Homo sapiens: one gene and its partners. The protein of the gene in region 4 interacts with the protein of the main gene of each other region in a pairwise test. Each region holds a gene or a part of one and is shown on either strand. Other genes may lie near its edges. The genes, in order: KRTAP13-4, ZBTB16, DNAJC5 and FCHO1.

Evidence for each region.
Region 1: the proteins of FCHO1 (region 4) and KRTAP13-4 interact in a two-hybrid assay, tested with the Homo sapiens proteins (one large-scale study listed by BioGRID).
Region 2: the proteins of FCHO1 (region 4) and ZBTB16 interact in a two-hybrid assay, tested with the Homo sapiens proteins (one large-scale study listed by BioGRID and IntAct).
Region 3: the proteins of FCHO1 (region 4) and DNAJC5 come close enough for resonance energy transfer, tested with the Homo sapiens proteins (one study listed by BioGRID).

Annotation. Positions count from the first base shown.
Region 1 is NC_000021.9:30,428,633-30,431,660, reverse strand, and holds KRTAP13-4 (keratin-associated protein 13-4), read right to left. Parts: upstream 1,442-3,028; 5' UTR 1,386-1,441; coding exon 903-1,385; 3' UTR 635-902; downstream 1-634. UniProt on the Homo sapiens protein: In the hair cortex, hair keratin intermediate filaments are embedded in an interfilamentous matrix, consisting of hair keratin-associated proteins (KRTAP), which are essential for the formation of a rigid and resistant hair shaft through their extensive disulfide bond cross-linking with abundant cysteine residues of hair keratins.
Region 2 is NC_000011.10:114,066,028-114,069,895, reverse strand, and holds part of ZBTB16 (zinc finger and BTB domain-containing protein 16), read right to left. Parts: intron 1-3,868. UniProt on the Homo sapiens protein: Acts as a transcriptional repressor. Transcriptional repression may be mediated through recruitment of histone deacetylases to target promoters. May play a role in myeloid maturation and in the development and/or maintenance of other differentiated tissues.
Region 3 is NC_000020.11:63,901,298-63,905,165, reverse strand, and holds part of DNAJC5 (dnaJ homolog subfamily C member 5), read right to left. Parts: intron 1-3,868. UniProt on the Homo sapiens protein: Acts as a general chaperone in regulated exocytosis. Acts as a co-chaperone for the SNARE protein SNAP-25. Involved in the calcium-mediated control of a late stage of exocytosis. May have an important role in presynaptic function.
Region 4 is NC_000019.10:17,754,477-17,758,344, reverse strand, and holds part of FCHO1 (F-BAR domain only protein 1), read right to left. Parts: intron 3,754-3,868; 5' UTR 3,664-3,753; exon of another isoform or gene 3,587-3,663; intron 3,228-3,586; 5' UTR 3,181-3,227; coding exon 3,154-3,180; intron 1-3,153. UniProt on the Homo sapiens protein: Functions in an early step of clathrin-mediated endocytosis. Has both a membrane binding/bending activity and the ability to recruit proteins essential to the formation of functional clathrin-coated pits.

The DNA of each region.
Region 1 (3,028 bases), on a different chromosome or scaffold from region 4:
AATGCTTGTTCAGCATGGCTCAGGTGTGTTGCTGTCAGCTTGATTAAGGTTGAGCCTTGAAGAAGCATCGGTAGGTTACCGAAGCCTCCTGGACCCAATAATTCCCACTTAAGATCATTGGTGAATGATCCTGACTCTCCTTACCAGTGGGAGGCAGGAAACCTGGCACTTAAGTCTACTAACAAAGAGCAAAGCGTCTGTCCTAGCAGTGCTTAAGCTTCACTTTTCTCTTGGTTGAAAATCCACATTCAGATACTAGACTTTAAGTAACCTTTAGTGCAAGCATACAGTTTACCTTATAAATTACATCCTAGTCTTGTTGTCTGCATTTCTAGTTTATGCATCAAATTTTCTGCTTTCCTATATCAGTAGAAATGCATGTCCTTCATTCTTAGACAATTCTCACTGCTGTTGAGACAAGTCTGCAGATGCAAACTATGTTCTTCCAGAAATGATTACTCTTAATAGACAACATACCTAATTTCAAGAGAAATGTTCTCAGATCTGTCAGATTATATGGGCCCCAAATCCAGTTACACAGTCATATTGATTTTTACTTAAATCTCCCAAATTCTTGAATGCAAAAATGTAAGCAAAATAATAATAATAAAATAATAACAATGTGAACAATATATTTGGGTACCAGATTACATACATTTATTAGATTAAAATTTCCATTTTCAACAGTTTTTGGATGAAAATCAGATAGCATATATTCGATCAATGGTAAAGATATTAGAAGTTAATATTAGGTTACTCATTAATTTCGCAGTCTGCCAGAAGTTGGTCATGCAAGAAGCTGGTGGTGGAAGAATAAAAAGATATTGGGATCTGGCAAGAATGAAAATAATGGCTGCATTCAGTAGAGACTTTGATCCCAATACTCAAAAGGATCTAGAAATTTAGCAGGTGAATTGATAGAAGCGAGATCCACAGATTGGTCTGTAACAAGAAGACTGCCAGGCTCCAGAAGCCAAGTAGTTTGGGTAGCAGAATCTGGATCCGTAACTCAGGGAAGGAAAACCACAGCCTCCATATTTCAGGAATCTGAAGCCACTGGATCCATTTCCCAGCGAGTAGCAGCACCTAGATCCATAGCCCTGGGAGCGACAGCTGCTGGACCGAAAGCCTAGAGATCCAGAGCAAGTCGTCTGACAGGGACAGCAGAGGATGGAGGTCCTGGGGCGGTAGCAGGATTTCTGGCAGCTGGCGGGCTCCCAGCAGGTCTTCTGACAGTCCCTGTAGAGAGAGGAACGCAGCTGGCAGGTGCTGGGAGAGCAGAGGGCAGTGCTGTAGACCAGGCTGCTGGGGTAGGAGCCTGGGTAGTACAGGTAGCCCCCAAAGGAGCGGGAGGAGAAGTTTCTAGAGCAGCAGTTGTAGGACATGCTGATGAGAGATGGGAGTTCAGCTGAGTGTACCTAAGAAGATTCTGAGTTTTAATGTCGCATCCTGGACAAGGGCATTTATATCCTCTCAGCAATAGGTGTGGTGCCCAACAGGGTCATCCTTTACATATTTGTGATCCCTCATTTACATATGTGTAACTGCGTAATCTTGTCTGTAATTGCATTTGAATAGTTTTCCATGTATTGTATTTATGGGTGCTATAATTTTCGTGTTATAGCACAAAGCCAATGAACTGTACTTATGTCAGAAATGCTATGACTGTTTTATATTAATGTCTAGCTCATCATGACAAGGAAAGCTCTTCCTATTTCTTTGGCACATGCTAACTGCCTCTTTTCCTGTGTATTCACATCTGGCTTTGCTAGTAGATGTTTTCCTCTTAAGAGTGGGGAATGAGATAACGTTAGTTTCTTTCTGGTGCAATTTCCACCTGGATGAGAACCTTTGTGAAAATGATCCATCTTGTCACCATTGATTGCTATACTCCAAAATTACTTTGTGGTGATTTTTTAGGGCGGTAAGAGTAAATTAATACATTAAGTACTACAGTTATAAAGTCTGTCTCATATCCAGTGAAGAAAGATCAAGAACAGGCAAAGCAAAGAGATAGAAAGAAATGGCTAGAAATTGAAAGAAACCTTGCCATTTATTTAAAGACGAGATAACAAAAAGAAGCTCGATTGAAACACAGTCACAGAGAAGATCAATTTGAGGTCATGTCTCTTCAGCCAAAGAGCCCGAATGCTTGTCTGCTGAAGGGAGGAAACAAGTGAAAGAGAAACAAAGAGAAAGCTCAGGAATTTCAGAATTTTTTTTCCTATTGCATTCCAGCTGTCATGTGTCTTGTCTCAATGTCTTTATGAGCAAAAATTTTCAAAATTAGCAAATCTTATGAACTTTGATATATTTATCATCTACTTTTGTAATTATACAGGACTTCTACCTTCTTAGAATGGCTCTAGCTTTCCATATTACTGGCTTTCAGTGTCTTTTTGCCACTTGTAGAACCAGGTACCATCCTACATTTTCCTGTGAAAATGTGAAGTTTCTTTGTTCCCCAGTCCTCTTTTCCTCTGCATGGTATATGAATGTTTCTCTCTTATTTTCTCTCTCTCTTCCTCTGACTTTCTTTCCCTCTATTTTTCTTTCTTTTTTCTGTGCTTAAGTTTGATTTTATCTTTTTTCTTTTTTTTACTTGTTATATTTTATGTTTTGTTCATGTGTTTGTTTGCCTCTGCTGAATTATAGATTCCATGTTGAAAAATAAAAATTGGACAGCTTTGTCGTATTCTTTGAGGATAGCCACTTTGTAAGTTCATTCACAAAATATTCTATGTTGAAATACAAGTAGTTAAATTATATTCAGGACCAAAGAAAGTGTACTGTCATGGTTGATGACATTTTATTTTATAATAAAATATAATAAACTTACAACAATAATGTTAGACATTTTCTCGATTAAATTTTCTCAATTAAAATGTATGGCAATATTGAAAAGTAACTTAATATAGGCCTTCCAGAAGGAAGAATGAAGAAAGAAGCAAATATGGCCAATTCAAATATCTATTCAGTGAGTTACTTTCTATTTTTCAATGGCAGTTGATTTCCCCTAACCTTGTAC
Region 2 (3,868 bases), on a different chromosome or scaffold from region 4:
TCAGACTTCATTATCACAGATATGGGATTATGGACCTGTACCCACTCAAGGAAGGCTGTGAGGGCAAGAGAGATAAAGTCATTAGAGGTGCTTTGCAAAGAAGAAAATGCTGCAACCGATAAAAGGTATTATTAATATCATTGCTGTGGCTATCATTATTCTACAGCATACCCTTTTCCAAACAGAATTTAGTTTGACATCAGAGGTTCTGGACGGGATGATGAAAGAAAACCAAGAGTCTCAGGAAACCTCAAAAATCCCAAAAGTAGCCTAAACCAAGGTCAACACCTGTTGGCCTTCTACATGATCAACCACTAAAAACAGAGCAGCTGACCATCTGAGAGAGACCAAGGCCAAGGGCCAGGCAGAACTCTGATATCTTAGCCACAAAGCTCATGCACCGTACAGCTGGCTCCACAAAGCCTCTGGGAAGGGCTGTACACACGGATCCAGAAAGCTGGCTCAGACATTCCCTGTGGTTCCTGAGAATCCCTTCAAGAACCAGGCAATAGGCCGGGCGTGGTGGCTCACACCTGTAATCCCAGCACTTTGGGAGGCCGAGGCAGGTGGATCACGAGTTCAGGAGATCGAGACCATACTGGCTAACACGGTGAAACCCTGTCTCTACTAAAAATACAAAAAATTAGCCGGGCGTGGTGGCGGGTGCCTGTAGTCCCAACTACTTGGGAGGCTGAGGCAGGAGAATAGCGTGAACCTGGGAGGCAGAGCTTGCAGTGAGCTGAGATCGCGCCACTGCACTCCAGCCTGGGAGACAGAGCGAGACTCCATCTCCAAAAACAAAAAGGAACCAGGCAAGAGTTGCGACGGTGTCTGTGCAGGACATCCACTGCAGCTGACCTAAGTGCTTGTCTGTATAAGATCCAGAAACCAGACCCCATTGTGCCTCTGCAGCACTAAATTCAGAAACACATAAAGACCAAGCTGCGTGAGCCATGGGAGACTAGGGACTATAAATGAGGACTATGTTCACACTTAAGTCTATAGAACTATACTGTTCCCTGCAATCTTATCGCATATGTACGTAACTCTGAGAATGATCAGGTGCTCCTGGCCTGGATGAGCTGGTTCCTAGACCATTTCCAGAGAAGCCTACATGCAGAACTGCTCCAGCCTTTTGGAATAAGAAAGGGAGGGCCCAGTGTTCCAGAATCCTGAGATGATCTTCCCCTCCCTCAGGCATTATCCTCTGTAATGTGGATGCACTGGTGAAGATTTGGGGGCCCAAAGCTTGCTCCTTCATCTGCCTGCAGAATACTGCTTATCTATCAGATCTTCCCACTGTTCTGACTTCCTTCTGGTTTGTTTAGGTAAGTCAGTCCCATTGGATGCCTTTGTCTGGTCTTCCCACCCATCCATGACTACACTTGACACTGCATCCCTTTTACAGCACGTCATTCCTGCAGTGGACGGCTTGTACATCTTGCTGTCCGCTGCAGGAAACAGGCTCTACAACTCCACTAAGTTTGATTCTCACTATCTGTTGAGCCAACAGCTTACCCTTCACTCCACACCAGCTTGGGATCAAATCATGGGGAAACTTACCGATGACATTCCATAATAAACTCCCTGCCTTCCTGCCTCACTTACCAGCAATCCGCCTTCATTTCCTCTCCATTCCCTTCTGCCCCCCCACCCCAAGAAGAAATGCAAGAAGGACTGCTGGGTATCTAGTCTTTACCAACACTCAGGCCTATTGACTTAAAAATAAAATAAAATAAACCCTGTAGCCTGTTATTTTATCACTGATATATTTCCAGTGAATGCCATGGCTTCCTGGCCTCAAAATCTCCCCTTCTGATTTTTTTTTTTTTTTTGTCTTGGCTTTTTGTTTGTACTGGTTATAGGGCTGTTGTTTTTTTTTTTCCACCATAGCATTTCTCAGACTGCTGATGGGTTGGGGGGAGACAGAGAACAGTAGAAAAAAGGGAATAGCACATTAATCCTGGAGTTTTGAGGGTGAGGGGGAGAAAAAAAGCCTTCTACAAAGTACATCTAGCTGGGACCCGAGGGGCTGTTGATCTGAGTGAGGGCTGAGCACACGCAGGATTATTTTCTCCCCTTTCTGATTTCTTTAGACCCCCAAGCTTCCCATCAAAGGCACTGCCCCTGGCTCTAACTTCTTGGGCTGCAGCTGCTGACTTTCCACCCTCAGTCAAAAGCACATTCTCGGCCCAGCAGGGTGGCACACACCTATAATCCCAGCACTATGGGAGGCCGAGACAGGTGGATCACTTAAGGCCAGGAGTTCCAGGCCAGCCTGACCAACATGGTGAAACCCCATCTCTACTAAAAATACAAAAATTAGTCGGGCATGGTGGTACACATCTGTAGTCCCAGCTGCTCAGGAGGCTGAGGCAGGAGAATCACTTGAACCCGGGAAGTAGAGGTTGCAGTGAGCCAAGATCATGCCACTGCACTGCAGCCTGGGCGACAGAGTAAGACTCTGCCTCAACAACAACAACAACAACAAAAGCACATTCTTCCTGTCAGCAGCCCACATGTGACACGGAGGATTCCAGGGCCAGTGTCTTGCTGTCATATGCTCACAAGGACAGGGACATTCTCTGCACCACCTCACAGTCAACACAACCCTCATGGAGGGTGGCACTGTGGACACTACACACTAGAACTCAGAGCCAATGAGGACCATGCAGAGATGAGGCCTAAACAACACAAGGGACAGATGGTCAGTTCTCCACCGCTGCGGTGACTATGTGCCCATCACAGCTCTAGTGATTTCTGGATCTTACTTCATTAATTCAGCACCAACCCTGTTGACCGTCTCCATTTTAAGAAGTGAGTGAAGGCCGGGCGGGGTGGCTCACAGCTGTAATCCCAGCACTTTGGGAGGCCGAGGTGGATGGATCGCAAGGTCAAGAGATCGAGACCATTCTGGCCAACATGGTGAAACCCTGTCTCTACTAAAAATACAAAAAATTAGCTGGGCGGGGTGACAGGTGCCTGTAGTCCCAGCTACTCAGGAGGCTGAGGCAGGAGAATCGCTTGAACCCGGGAGGTGGAGACTGCAGTGAGCTGAGATCACGCCATTGCACTCCAGCCCGGTGACAGAGCGAGACTCCGTCTCAAAAAAAAAAAAAAAAAAAAATGTAGTGAGTGAAACAAGGCCCAGAAAGGTTAAATAAGTATCACAGGCTCTCACCACTAAATATGGCCAATTCCAATACCCAGGCTCTTTCGAATATAACATGGCCAACTCTCCCTCTCTCCCCAGAGGAATGAGGGTCTTGCTGAAGGGGAACTTGGAAGTCTCAGGAGAGTGGTATCTTTTGTGGCCCTCTCGGGTAAAGAAAAGCAACCAGGAACCAGGACCTGATGAGAGCCAGAAAAACAATTACTTCCCACCATACCCAGTTCTCATAGCACACAGCCGAAATAATTCACATCCGGAAAGATGATACATCTATCTGGTCAACTTTGGGGAGCGGGTTTCCTCTTTAGGAAAGTTTGAGCAAAAACAAACACAACCTCAGTCTATTTCTGAGCGGTACAAGCATCAAGAAGACACACCTTAGTGGCGGTTATTTTTCGCACCCACTGGAAAAAGTCGGCTACGTTTAGCTCTGCCACACTTTCCACAAGTTAAGCCTCTGAGCTGTCGAGGAGGCAGGGTCAGAGCAGATTCCGGCTAGGGGTGATGAGATCAACTTCCAGATATCCCCACCCCAACCCCTCTCACTCACATCCCCCGTACCTGAACGAGCAACAGGGGAATGGGGGTGAAGGGGGAGGAAGTGGAGAATCCACCCAAGATCAGCAAAACAGCAGACCACAGGGTATGCAGCCAAATGCTGTCGTCAATGACAACAGAAAGCTGGATTTCTTGACT
Region 3 (3,868 bases), on a different chromosome or scaffold from region 4:
CCAGCCTGGGCGACAAGAGCGAGACCCCATCACATACACAAAAGACAGGAAAAAAAAAAAAAAGCCAGGCACGGTGGCTCACCCTATAATCCTGACACTTTGGGAGGCCGAGGCAGGCGGATCACCTGATGTCAGGAGTTCGAGACCAGCCTGGCCAACATGGTGAAACCCCCGTCTAGACTAAAAATACAAAAATTAGCCGGGCGTGGTGGCGGGCACCTGTAATCCCAGCTACTCTGGAGGCTGAGGCAGGAGAATCGCTTGAACCCGAGAGGCAGAGGTTGCAGTGAGCCGAGATCGCGCCGTTGCACTCCAGCCTGGGGTACAACAGCGAGACTTTGTCTCAAGAAAAACAAAAACAAACAAAAAAACCCCCACAGTTTATTAATCTGCCTTATTGTCCTTTGCCTTTTAAAAATATAAGATAAGCCTGTTTAAGGCTTTACTGGGAGGCAGCTGTCAGTCAGCCAGCTGTTCTGGAGTCAGTCCAGGGCAAAGGCTGCTGTAGGAACAGCATTAGCACAACTTTGCCTATTTATCCTTAACCAGAGCAGGTTTACAAGGATGCCTATACCATGAACACCTGCACGCATCTCAGTCCGCCCACCTGGAGGTCAGACACACTAAGAGGCAGCTGGACCAGCTCCCTGTTCAAGGCCACTTCAGATTCTATGTGAGTTACAGTGCCCTTGTCTTAAAGTATTTTCATAAATGTGAATTAAGCAGTGCTCACACCAGGGAGAAGGATGCTGTGAGTCTGTCTGTTGGTCTGCTGGTGACAATCAGTTAGGGTTACCCAACCTGGCGGGATGATGCAAGAGAAAACAGCACCAACAGAAACCACATCGTAAGAGGTAATTTTGGGGAAAAAAGGGTAATTTTGTAAATCCTGTGTTGTCACTTTAACATGTATGATGACATTATTTGTGCTTATTCTTCAATATTATACCTTTATACTCGAGAATCTAAAAAACTGTTTAAGACCCACCCTGCATGGCTGTCCTGGGGATTACGGCTAATGCATATTCGGCAACCTTGTCCCAGAACACCTGTTCAACAAACCACGGTTTGCCTCATTTCAGAGTGTTTTGCTATTTGGACACGGGGTATTCTTTTTCATCCCCCACTGCAACCTCCGCTTCCCAGGCTCCAGGGATCCTCCCACCTCAGCCTGACCTCAGCCTCTCGAGTAGCTGGGACCACAGGCATGCACCACCACGCCCAGCTAACTTTTGTATTTTCTGCAGAGATGGGGTTTCCTCATGTTACCCAGGCTGGTCTCAAATTCCTGAACTCGAGAGATCTATCCACCTCAGCCTCCCAAAGTGTTGGGGTTACAGGTGTCAGCCACTGCACCTGCCCAAATTTTTGTATTTTTAGTAGAGACGTGGTTTCGCCATGTTGGCCAGGCTAGTCTCAAACTCCTGGCCTCATGTAATCTGCTTGCCTTGGCCTCCCAAAGCACTGGGATTACAGGCTTAAACCACTAAGCCTGGCCAAAAATGTTTTTAATTTTTTAAAAATTTCTATACGAAGAGCCTTATTAAAAGTTTGAGATGGGCCGAGCGCAGTGGCTCACACCTGTAATCCCAGCACTTTGGGAGGCCAAGGTGCGCAGACCATGAGGTCAAGAGATCGAGATCATCCTGGCCAACATGGTGAAACCCCGTCTCTACTAAAAAATACAAAAATCAGCCGGGCGTAGTGGCGCATGCCTGTAGTCCCAGCTGCTACAGAGGCTGAGGCAGGAGAATCGCTTGAACCCAGGAGGCGGAGGTTGCAGTGTGCCAAGATCGCACCACTGCTCTCCAGTCTGGTGACAGAGACTCCATCTCAAAAAAGAGAGTTTGAGGTGAGTCAGTGAGGTGGTGCGTGCCTACAATCTCAGTTACTGAGGGTTAGGGTGATTCTAATCTACTGAGACTGTAGGCATGCACCACCTTGGGAGGCTGAGGCAGGAGGATCGAGCCCAGGAAGGCCAACCTGGGCAACATGTGGAGGCCCCATCTCTACAAAAATTAAAACATTAGTCAACTGTGGTGACACATACCTAAAGTCCCAGCTACTTGGGAGGCTGAGATAGGAGGATTGCTTGGGCCTGGGAGAATGCAGTGAGCTAAGACTGTGTCACTCCTCTCTAACTTGGGTGAGAGACAGAGTGACACCCTGTTGTAAAAAAAACAGGATGTGGCAGGGCGCGGTGGCTCACGCCTCTAATCCCAGCACTTTGGGAGGCCGAGGTGGGCAGATCACGAGGTCAGGAGATCGAGACCATCCTGGCTAACACGATGAAATCCCGTCTCTACTAAAAATACAAAAAACATTAGCTGGGCGTGGCGGCGGGTGCCTGTAGTCCCAGCTACTCGGGAGGCTGAGGCAGGAGAATGGCATGAACCCAGGTGGCAGAGCTTGCAGTGAGCCGAGACTGAGTCACTGCACTCCAGCCTGGGCGACAGAGCAAGACTCTGTCTCAAAAAAAAAAAAAAAAAACAAGATGAGGCCAGGTGCGTTGGCTCACGCCTGTAATCCCAGCACTTTGGGAGGCCGAGGTGAGTGGATCACCTGAGGTTGGGAGGTCGAGACCAGCCTGACCAACATGGAGAAACCCCATCTCTACTAAAAATACAAAATTAGCTGGGTGTGGTGGCACACGCCTGTAATCCCAGCTACTCAGGAGGCTGAGGCTGGAGAATCACTTGAACCCAGAAGGCAGAGGTTGCGGTGAGCCAAGATCACACCGTTGCACTCCACCAGCCTGGGAAACAAGAGTGAAACTCCGTCTCAAAAAAAAAAAAAAAAAAAAAAAAGATGAGGCCAGGAGCAGTGGCTCACGCCTGTAATCCCAGCACTTTCGGAGGCCGAGCTGGGCGGATCACAAGGTCAGGAGATCGAGACCATCCTGGCTAACACGGTGAAACCCCATCTCTACTAAAAATACGAAAAATTAGCCGGGCGTGGTGGCGGGCGCCTGTAGTCCCAGCTACTCGGGAGGCTGAGGCAGGGGAATGGCGTGAACCCGGGAGGCGGAGCTTGCAGTGAGCCGAGATCGCGTCACTGCACTCCAGCCTGGGCGACAGCACAAGACTCTGTCCCCCACCCAAAAAAAAAAAGCATTATTATTTTAAAGAACACATCAAGAAAGAACTAACAAAATTTATTGCGACTGGCAAAAATGTAAAATCTCAGATTTTAACAGCTAGTCCTATCGCAGCAGCTAAAAGAACACCAAAGTGCTGTGGTAAAAGGCCCCGCAAGCAAAGGGGAAAGACAGACACCATCTGAGGGCTACGAACTTGGCAAGAGATGACAGAAGCTACAGTCTGTACTCCTGGACCCAGAATTTCCTTCGTTATTTGTCTTAGGGAAACCTTCTTACAATAAAACACAATCCTATTTAATAAAGAAAAATCCGATGGGACTGCTCAGCAAAGATCCAAACATTCGCTCTGCTGCTAATCCCTCCCAATAACAGGAGGAGCAAAATAAAAGCCAGGCAGGGCCGCACACTCCACACACTCCCTCTGCTGAGCTGCAGTCACTCCTCCCGTCAGGCACCTGCAGCCTCGTCCGGGGTAGAGGCCTCTGGCCTGGGCTCGCCTCCACTCTGAGACTGATGTGGAGCGCGCGGACGCAGCCTCTGGCACCTGAATTCAGCTCCTGCTTCTTCAAGGGTCAAGAGTAAGACGGGATATTTTCGTTCTGCAGTTTCACTAGAACACATTTCCACCCTACCTGGTGAAAAAATAGAGGCACAGGGCAGGGAGAGCTCTCCCCGAAGTCAGCCGCGCTCTAGAGACAGCAAGGAGGGCAGGGCACAGCCGATGGGGCTGGGAAGTCGATTCCATCTTCCGACCTGCCAGCATCATGA
Region 4 (3,868 bases):
ACATCCTTCCACTTCCCAAGGATCATTGCCACCTGCTCTAGAAACTTCCCTAACCCTGCTCAACCCCCTCCCCCACTTCACTGTTGCTCCCTCCAGCTCGCCAGGAATACGTTTTCTCTTTTTTTTTTTTGAGACGGAGTCTCACTCTGTCACCCAGGTTGGAGTGCAGTGATGCGATCTTGGCTCACTGCAAGCTCTGTCTCCTGGGTTCACGCCATTCTCCTGCCTCAGCCTCCTCAATAGCTGGGACTACAGGTGCCCGCCACCATACCCGGCTAATTTTTTGTATTTTTAGTAGAGACGGGGTTTCACTGTGTTAGCCAGGATGGTCTCGATCTCCTGACCTTGTGATCCGCCTGCCTCGGCCTCCCAAATGCTGGGATTACAGGTGTGAGCCACCGCACCCGGCTTTTTTTTTTTTTTTTTTTTGAGACAGGGTCTTGCTCTGTCGCCCAGGCTGGAGTCCAGTGGTATGATCTTGGCTCACTGAAACCTCTGCCTCCCAGGCTCAAGCGATCCTCCCACCTCAGCCTCCCAAGTAGCTGGGACCACAGGTGCGCGCCACCACACCCAGCTAATTTTTTGTATTTTTAGTAGAGACGGGGTCTTGCTATGTTGCCCAGGCTGGTCTCAAAGTCCTGGGCTCAGGCGATCCGCCATCTCAGCTTCTCAAAGTGTTTGGATTACAGACGTGAGCTACCACGCTCCACCTATATTTTCTCTTCTTGTGTTTGGAATTATATTTTCAAAGTTCAAGTGTCCAATCTCCTTATACGTACAGGGTCACTTTGGGTTGGTGACTTCGTCTCTCTGGCCTCAGTTTCCTTCCTTGTGTGACAAATGGGGACAACAACAGCACCCAACTCCCAAGGGTCTTGCTGGGATGAGGCTGGCACAGTGCTGGCCCCAGGAGATCCTCGGGTGAGGCTGCACCAGGCACCACCGCCCAGAGCAGCATCTGGGTCTGACTCAGAGCCAACTGCTGGCCCGTTTCCCAGACCTGGCAAACCCCCAGCAGCGTCTGCCTCTCTTGGACTGGGCTGGCAGCCGAGGGTCCTAGGAGGGGCTGTCTCAGGTCTGTCTCTCCCACCAGAACTTCTAGACTTCAGACTTGGCCTCTGTGCCAGCCAAAATGTGGTCTTTTTTTTTTTTTTTTTTTTTTAGACGGAGTCTCACTCCATCACCCAGGCTGGAGTGCAGTGGCGCGATCTCACTGCGACTTCCACCTCCCGGGTTCAAGCAATTCTCCTGCCTTAGCCTCTCGAGTAGCTGGGACTACAGGCTCATGCTACTATGCCCGGCTAATTTTTGTATTTTTAGTAGAGATGGGGTCTTGCCATGTTGGCCAGGCTGGTCTCCAATTCCTGACCTCAGGTGATCCGCCTCCCTCGGCCTCCCAAAGTGCTGGGATTACAGGCATGAGCCACTGCGCCCAGCCAAGAGTGTGGTCTTTGTAACAGAGCTTGTTTATGTCCCTCTCCTGCTCACACTTCCCCCATGGCTCCCTAGTACACTTCATGCTTCGGCCCTGCCCTGGCGCAATGAGACTGGGGCATCCCTGTTTGGCTTAATCTCCCCAGCACCACCCAGCAAAGAACCAGGCTTCTATGGCGGCTTCAATACTAGCAACTGATGACAGATGTCACAGGAGGCCTCCCTGAGTCTGGGGGTGTGTGGGGTGCATGGGGTGGGAGTGGCGGTGCAGGAATTTCATCCCTTTTTCCCAGATGGGGAAACAGAGGTTCGGGCAGGCAAAGTCATTTGCTCAAGGGCTTCCAGCAGAGTCAATTCGAATCCTGAACTCAAAGCTCTTAACCATTCTCTACCAGGATATCTTTGGGTGAGGTGGGGAAGTCGGGGGTGGTTTCTATTTTCTCTTTGCTGATCTGAATTTTCTGCAGCGAGCCTGCACGCCTCACACAATTAAAAAGGATTTAAAATAAATGTAGGTGCCACTGTCGGGGTTCCAAAATGCAGGTGACTTTTGATCCTCAAATGGTCACCTCCATTACACGGCAGTACTAAAAGGAGCTCAGAAAGGGGTAGCCCCTCACTGGAGTCACACAGCCTTTCAGGGGCAAATCGGGGAGTCTGACCTTTGGAGAGAGGGCGGAGGTCACACCCCTGCAGGTGGCAAGGGAGTGCGGCCCCTTTAAGAAAGCAAGTGCTTTCAAGAGGAGCCCCAGCTGGGGAGGGAGCAAGGGCAGGAGTGGGGCTTGTTGCCAGGGGCAACCAGTCGCCTAGCAACAGGCTTCCTCACTGCAAGCTCAGGGCCTGCAACTGGGGAAGGGGCTTTCTGACCTGGTCCTTCCCTGACTCCTGGGCCCTCCCCTGTTCACCCATCCTCTGTGGCACCCTGTTAGCCTGGCTCTGCAGGAGGAGTCCCTGTTCCCTGAACTTGCCACTCAATGTCACATCTCTGGTCTTTTGCCCAGGCTTTCTCACAGCAAACACGATTCTGTGTCCTGGTTCCTACTCTAGGACCCCCAAGGCTGGGTTCAGCCCTGGTCCTGCAGGGCTGAAGGTGTCTAAGCTGGCTCTGGGTCCCCCAGACTGGGGACTCCTCCCTTGGGGCTGGGGCTGGGATGGATTCTCTTGGAGACCCCAGCATCTCCTAGGGCTGGCTGGGGATGAGGTCACAGTGGCAGGGAGAGAGGAAATGAATGAATAAAAACAACTCTGTCTCACTCAGCAGCCCTTGGGCTACAGGAGGTGATCTCCAGCCTGGACAGTGGAGGGGTGCACAGGCCATGAGACGCCAGGTCAGGAAAACCCCCCAATTCTCCAGGATGGGAAGGGGGTGGAAGTTCCCTGGCTGGAATGACCCTGGGTCCTGGAAGTTCAGTTTGGCCCTGGGTTTGAGCACTGACTCTGCACTTTTTCATGGGGCAACTTCAGGTTGCCTAGACGTTCCCACTCTGGCCCTTGGTCTCCCTATGACACAAGCTATGACTTGCCCAAGGTTGTAAGGCCTGTGAGGTCTGGGGTGGGTGTGGATTCAAACCCAGCCTGACTCTTCCCACTTTAACTTCCATCCCTTGCAGATCCTCTACCTGTCCAAGGCTGTAACCGCAACTCACCCAGTCCTCCCATCTCCATAAAAGTCCCCACAGCCCTGCCAGCATCCCCCGCCTAAATAAGAGTGGGTCTTACCCAAAAATGCTCCCCAAAATACGACATCCTGATGGTCTCTGTGGAGACCCCTGCAGGCCCCGTCCAGTGCCTGTCTGAAGAGAGAGGCAAGTTTGAGCTACAGAGTCATTGCCAGTGTGGGCTTGGTGGGGGGAAAGTCCCTCCCTGTAGAGGAAGGAGAGAAAGGATGAAGGAGGAACTGAAAGCTCCAATGCTAAGAGCATGCCAGGACCCCTGAGATAATTCAGCCCCAGTGCTGGTCCCAAGTAGCTCCAGTAGAGGGGGACAGAACAAGACACAGATGCCCCCAATTCCACAGAGTCAGAACTGGACTAGGTGGAGGGACAAGAGCTGAGGGAGTCTAGATTGGAGGAGGGGGCATGGAATGTGGGGTTTTTAGGCATGTATAAGAGTTCATAGCAGTGGGTAGGAGCAGTGCTGGATGACCCCTAACCTTGACAGGAAAGCTCTGATCCACTTCACAGATGGGAAAACTGAGCCCTCCCCTCCCCCAGAGGGGAAGTCACTTGCCAAGATCACACAGCTAGGAAGGGACAGTAGATTTGCACTCTGGACTGGCTGAGCCCAGACCTGAGCTCTCAGCTCCACTCCAGGCAGCTCCTGCAGGAAAAGGGTTTGAAGAGAAATAGATGCAGGGGCTGTGATCAGCCACATGGGGGTTGGGGTCCCTGAAGTATCCCTGAGGGTCCCCTGGGATCTTCTGATTCCTCTAGGA